2 separate regions of the Homo sapiens genome follow, and region 1 is linked to region 2. The links come from fine-mapping of genetic effects on gene expression. A gene starts in region 2. The other region holds a variant in brackets. All regions are shown on one strand. Distances are from middle to middle. Region 1 overlaps LTBP2 (latent transforming growth factor beta binding protein 2). Region 2 holds the start of LTBP2 (latent transforming growth factor beta binding protein 2).

Region 1 (2,904 bases), 110 kb after region 2:
AATGTGCATCTGGTCTCTTCTGTTGTTTTTATTTCATATCAGATTAAATTTCTTTACCATGTTGGCTAAGTCTAAATATTAGAGATGAGGCTGTGCCTACTCCCTGGCCAGCTCTGCTGATAGCCTATGATGGGTTCCAATGGGAAATGACTCTTTACTATTAAAAGACAAGGAAAGCTCTGACTTCGTACTTCTCTGATGAATGGCAATGTAAATGAACAAGGCTCCATGTGACTGGAGCATGGAAGTGAATGCTACTTTCTTAATTTAATCTGCCCTGTCCTACCTGCTCCTCTGATTGTTAGCCATCACATAACTTATTGAATGCTTGCCATGTGCCAGGCACTGTGCTGAGTGCCATACATACATTTCATTTAATTATCCAATAATCCTACTTACTATTGTTTATTCTCAATTTACAGGTGAGGAAACTGAGACATAGAAAGCTTAAATAATTTGCTCTAGGTCCCTATACTAATTGAGATGTTTTCAGCAGACAAAAATAAGTCACTCTTACGCATGTAAAAATATTCTTTCACTCATAATAAAAGAAATGCAACTTAAAACCATACTGAGATCCTTTTTAAAACTGTCAGATTGGCAAAGATCAAAAAGCTTGTTAAGACTCCTAGCTGGCAAGCATGTGGGAAATAGGTACTCTCATAACAGCTGACAGAAGTACATATTGAAGAGGACAATATGGCAATGTCCTTCAAAATTATAAAAGCACTAACTCTTTGATCCAGTAGTTTCCACTTCTAGGAACTTAACCTTCAGATATATTTTCACCAGATATAAAATGACATACGTAAGAAGTTATTACTGCATCATTTGTAATAGCTAAAGATTAGAAACAATTAATTGCTATGGAACCCTTAAAAAAGGTGGCTCTAAATTCCTTAAGAAAGATATCCAAAACAAATTAAGGGGAAAAGGGAGGGTTGCATAACAGCATGTAACATAACACTATTTGTCTAAAGAATGGGGAAAGAGAAGCGGTTGTCTGTTCACCTCATCCTTGCCACTCCGCCTTATACCTCACCATCGGAGAACTTACCATCCCCCAAATATATCCTGCTGGCACTACACCTTCGTAACTGCTGTTCCCACTGCCCCCACAACACTCCAATCTCCACCTTCCTGCCAACCTTGAGATATTGTATGCATATATACATATTTCCTTTGTTTAAAATACAAATAGCATACTATGCATGCTGTTCTGCACTTTGCTTTTTTTTTATACTTGCAATTAGAGCTGCCTCATTTCATTTTACAGCTGTATACTATTCCATTGAATGGATAAACCATAATTTATTTAATCAGTCCCTCACTGACAGACGTTTCCATTGTTTCCTGTCTTTTGCTATAAATAATGCTGTAATGAATATTCTTGTGCATATTTCACATTAATTTATGGGATTACATCTGCAGGATAAATTCTTAGAACCAATGGTGGTTTGTGGGGAGGGTGACAGGGTGGATAGGTACAGGATTGGGAGACTTTTCACTGTATCTCCTTTTGTATTTTTTTGAATTTTGTACCATATGTATCACCTATTCAAAAAAAAT[A/G]AAATATTTTTAAATACAGTTGCTGGCCAAAGATTGCTTAAATGCTCCTTCTCTTTATATATTTATCTGACTATAATTTACAACTAAAGCCAGGTGCTAATTATGTCAAAATTCCTTAATGCAAATTTGTCAGGCAGCCCTGTGGCATTTTTATGAAGAGTGGAAAATACGGATTTTAAAAGAACGATCATAAACATCAATGCTAGATAGGAAGAAAAATAGAAGAGATTCCTTCCTTTCAGACAAAACATGCAGTGAACAGTGTTAGGCCCTGCCCAAAGCCAGCTGCACAACATTAGCTTGGGTCCAGATTTCAAGGGAGAGCTGTACCACCACGATCAGTGCTGCCCACTTCCCTATACCAGGTTGATCCTGCCAAATGCCACCCCTGCACTCTAATGCTTTATAACAAACGACAAAACAACAGAGCTCGATTCTCAGAAGTTACAGAAAGAAGAGTCTCTTCCTGAACACCTACTTTAGTAGTCCTTCCTAATCTTTTACTTCTCAACTTCTTTCCTCCTATCCCTTGTAATCACTCAACATTCCCATACGAAGAAACTATGGGTGGGCCAGGCATGGTGGCTCGTGCCTGTAATACCGGCACTTTGGGAGGCTGAGGCAGGAGGATTGCTTGAGCCCAGGAGTTCGAGACTCCTGTGCAACATGGTGAAACCCCATCTCTACAAAAAATACAAAAAGTAGCTGGGCTTGGTGGTGTGCACCTGTAGTCCTAGCTACTTGCAGGGGCTGAGGTGGGAAGATTGTTTGAGCCTGGGAGGTAGAGGCTGCACCTCTGCACTCCAGCCTAGGAGACAGATTGAGACCCTGCCTCAAATAAAAAGAAAGAAACTAAGAGTGGATGGGACACATAATTTACATACCCTTGGTCACTCTCATCACATAACTCAAGTATGGTACCACAATAAGATCTGGGCATTGACCAAGAGACCTTCTCTTTGAAAAACAACATAAAGTCTCCACCAATGGAGACTTCCTGCTGCCACTTCTGGTTTCCCAATGAAGCTTTCTCAGTGTGAAGTAACATGATTTTCCCAAATCCGCCTTTTTTTTTTTTTTTTTTTTTTTTGAGACAGAGTCTCACTCTGCCACCCAGGCTGGAGTCCAGTGGTGCAATCTTGGCTCACTGCAATCTCCACCTCCTGGGTTCAAGTGATTCTCTTGCCTCAGTCTCCCGAGTAGCTGGGATTACAGGTGTCCACCACGCAGTTAATTTTTGTATTTTTAGTAGAGATGGGGTTTCACCATGTTGCCCAGGCTGGTCTCAAACTCCTGACCTCAGGTGATCTGCCTGCTTTGGCCTCCCAAAGTGCT
Region 2 (2,902 bases):
CCTCTCTGGGAAATAGGCTGTACAAATGTGCCAGGGGCAGCCCTGTTGATCCAAGCCTTTAGGCTGTAGGGAGGGAGCATGGGTGAGAATGGTGTGCTGATTACTGGGGACACGCAGACAGCGGCAGTCAGCATTCCCACACCCCTGCCCGCCTCCCTGCTAACACAAGATGTGAATGCACACACTGGGTCAATCGGGGTCACCGAATCCCCCTCTGGGAAATTCCCGAGAGAGTGAAGGGCTGGGTGGGATCCCGGGAATGGATTCAGCCAGAGGCGGGAGGCCTAGATTCCACTCCCCTCTTTCACATGCGCTATCTCCTTGAGTGACTTACTCAAGAGGCTCCGTGTCTTTGCCTCGGTGAAAAAGAGGACCCCTTGGCCGGGCGTGGTGGCTCACGCCTTTAATCCCAGCACTTTGGGAGGCCGAGGCGGGCGGATCACCTGAGGTTGGGAGTTCGAGACCAGCCTGACCAACATGGAGAAACCCCGTCTGTACTAAAAAATAAAATAATATACAAAATTAGTCAGACTTGGTGGCGCATGCCTGTAATCCCAGCTACTAGGGAGGCTGAGGCAGGGGAATCGCTTGAACCCGGGAGGCGGAGGTTGCGGGGAGCTGAGATCGCACCATTGCACTCCAGCCTGGGCAACAAGAGCGAAACTCCGTCTCAAAAAAAAGAAAGAAAGAAAGAAAGAAAAGAAAAAGAAAAAGAAAAAGAGGACCCCTCTTCTACCGGCAGCCATCACCGCGCCAGGCTCAGGCGTGACCCTCACGCCAGTGGAAGGGGATTGAGATCCAGAGCGAAGGCGGCGGCGCCAGGGCATTGCAGCCACGGAGCGCCAGGGCCGCCAGCTCCGCCAGGGGGCGCGCCCGGGACCTCCCTGCGCTCCGCGCGCCGCGCCCCGCCCCGCGCCACCCCCGCTCCGGCCGGCCCTGCGGAGGGCGCCCCCAGCGGCCAGGGCGCAAGCGGAGGGGGCGGCGGCCCTGTTCCCCTACGCGGGCCTCGGCGCCCCTCCCGGCTTCCTTCAGACCTGCAAGGCTGCAGCCTGGGTCCCCCGATCCAAAGACGGTCCCTGAGGCGAGGGGCGGGAGAACGATTCGGGGCAGGTCTGCAGTTCGAACTTGCCCAGAGCAGGAGAAAGGCGGCCCAGTGTCCCGGTCGTGGCAGGCGCCATCTGCCCGACCAGCGCCTGGGTCAGCCCCGCGCCGCCCCCTGCTCCGCACGGGTTAATCCCCCTCGCCGCCCGCTCGCCGCCCGCTGGCTTCCCGGTGCCAAAGTGGGTGTTGCTGGAATTCCTCGCTCCCTCTCCGGTAATGAGGGGGCTGAGCTGTCCCTCCGAGGAGGGGGCCTGGTGTGGATAAAAGAGACGAAAAAGCCGGGGGAGGTTTCCAAAAATAAAACCGTCCGGGTCCCCTTCAGACGGCTGCAGGCACAGGGAGGAGGCGCGAAGGTGCAGCAGCCGTGCGAGCCCAGCTGGAGTAGGAGCGCGGACTCGAGGCTCGGGGCGCGCAGCCCTCGTTCCGCCGAGAGCCGGGCCCCCAGTCGGCCGCTTCAGGGCCCCCTAGACTCAGAGAAGCTGGCCGCCGGGCGGGGCCGGGAGAACAGCCCGCGGGCGTCCAGCGTGCCGACCACAAAGCTCTTCGCGGTGCCCGCGCGCACCACTCTCCAGCCGCCCCGCGCCATGAGGCCGCGGACCAAAGCCCGCAGCCCGGGGCGCGCCCTGCGGAACCCCTGGAGAGGCTTCCTGCCGCTCACCCTGGCTCTCTTCGTGGGCGCGGGTCATGCCCAAAGGGACCCCGTAGGGAGATACGAGCCGGCTGGTGGAGACGCGAATCGACTGCGGCGCCCTGGGGGCAGCTACCCGGCAGCGGCTGCAGCCAAGGTGTACAGTCTGTTCCGGGAGCAGGACGCGCCTGTCGCGGGCTTGCAGCCCGTGGAGCGGGCCCAGCCGGGCTGGGGGAGCCCCAGGAGGCCCACCGAGGCGGAGGCCAGGAGGCCGTCCCGCGCGCAGCAGTCGCGGCGTGTCCAGCCACCTGCGCAGACCCGGAGAAGCACTCCCCTGGGCCAGCAGCAACCAGCACCCCGGACCCGGGCCGCGCCGGCTCTCCCACGCCTGGGGACCCCACAGCGGTCTGGGGCTGCGCCCCCAACCCCGCCGCGAGGGCGGCTCACGGGGTGAGCATGGGAGAGGGAAGTTTGGAGGGTACAGAGGGGAGCCAGGGCTCATTTGTGGAGGGGCGTGCAGGCGAGAGGAGAGGGCGCCGCTCTCATACCCTCGTCCCTCTGTCTTTAGTACTTCGGGAAACAGCCCCGAGGTTCCAAAATCGGGATTGGAAGATTTGATCCGCTTTCGAAGAGTTGAAGGCAGATAGATCATCATCCTCATCCTTTCTTACCAACTCTCCCGGAGCCCCGACGTTAAATCCTTTCGCAAGGCGCCTCTCCACTCGCCCGCGTTCCTCCTGCCTGCAACTAACGAGCTCTTGTAGACTCTTGCAGCGCTGCCGGGATCTGAGAGGCAGCGGGGAGAGGGCAGGAGGGTGGGCGCTCCAGGCTCTTGACGCCCAGGGGAGGTTGAGCTGGCTCAGAGCGCGGGTTGGCGGAGGTGTCGGGGGCCCCATGGAGAGAAGGTAGATGCGTCTCCAGGAGGGGAGCCGGCAGCGAAGCTGGTGCGTCGGGACAAGTGTCGTGGGGCGTGGGTCGGCCTGCGCACGCTGAGGGCTGGATGCGGGCGTGGGCGTGAGCTCTGGGTACTTTGGGCGGGAAGCGTGTCCTGATGAGGCTGCGACACAGTGGGCGCGTGGAGAATTGGATCAGTGTGCTCTTGTGCATCTAGGTGTAAGCGTGACTTGGGCGCGTTGCAGGGCTAAGCCACCGCACAACCCTGCAATTTACTTT

Evidence for each region. PIP is the estimated chance that this variant, and not a neighbour inherited with it, causes the effect. A credible set is the group of variants that fine-mapping cannot tell apart.
Region 1: its variant is the best candidate, but not a certain one, in a credible set for the expression of LTBP2 in whole blood (TOPMed, PIP 0.71).

Annotation. Positions count from the first base shown.
Region 1 is chr14:74,496,866-74,499,769 of GRCh38, reverse strand. LTBP2 (latent transforming growth factor beta binding protein 2) reads left to right here. Exons shown (of 36, transcript NM_000428.3): 36 at 1-1,587. It overlaps ISCA2 (iron-sulfur cluster assembly 2), which reads right to left. Exons shown (of 4, transcript NM_194279.4): 4 at 2,664-2,904. Among named protein-coding and RNA genes, the nearest start is that of ISCA2, 4.6 kb to the right of the region's middle. The variant A/G (reference allele first, on the strand shown) is at 1,570.
Region 2 is chr14:74,610,728-74,613,629 of GRCh38, reverse strand. It overlaps LTBP2 (latent transforming growth factor beta binding protein 2), which reads left to right and starts at 1,393. Exons shown (of 36, transcript NM_000428.3): 1 at 1,393-2,179. The coding sequence starts at 1,686. It overlaps LOC101928352 (a long non-coding RNA gene), which reads right to left and starts at 445. Exons shown (of 2, transcript XR_944029.4): 1 at 335-445; 2 at 1-63. RefSeq lists a silencer at 763-1,082 and an enhancer at 710-1,337.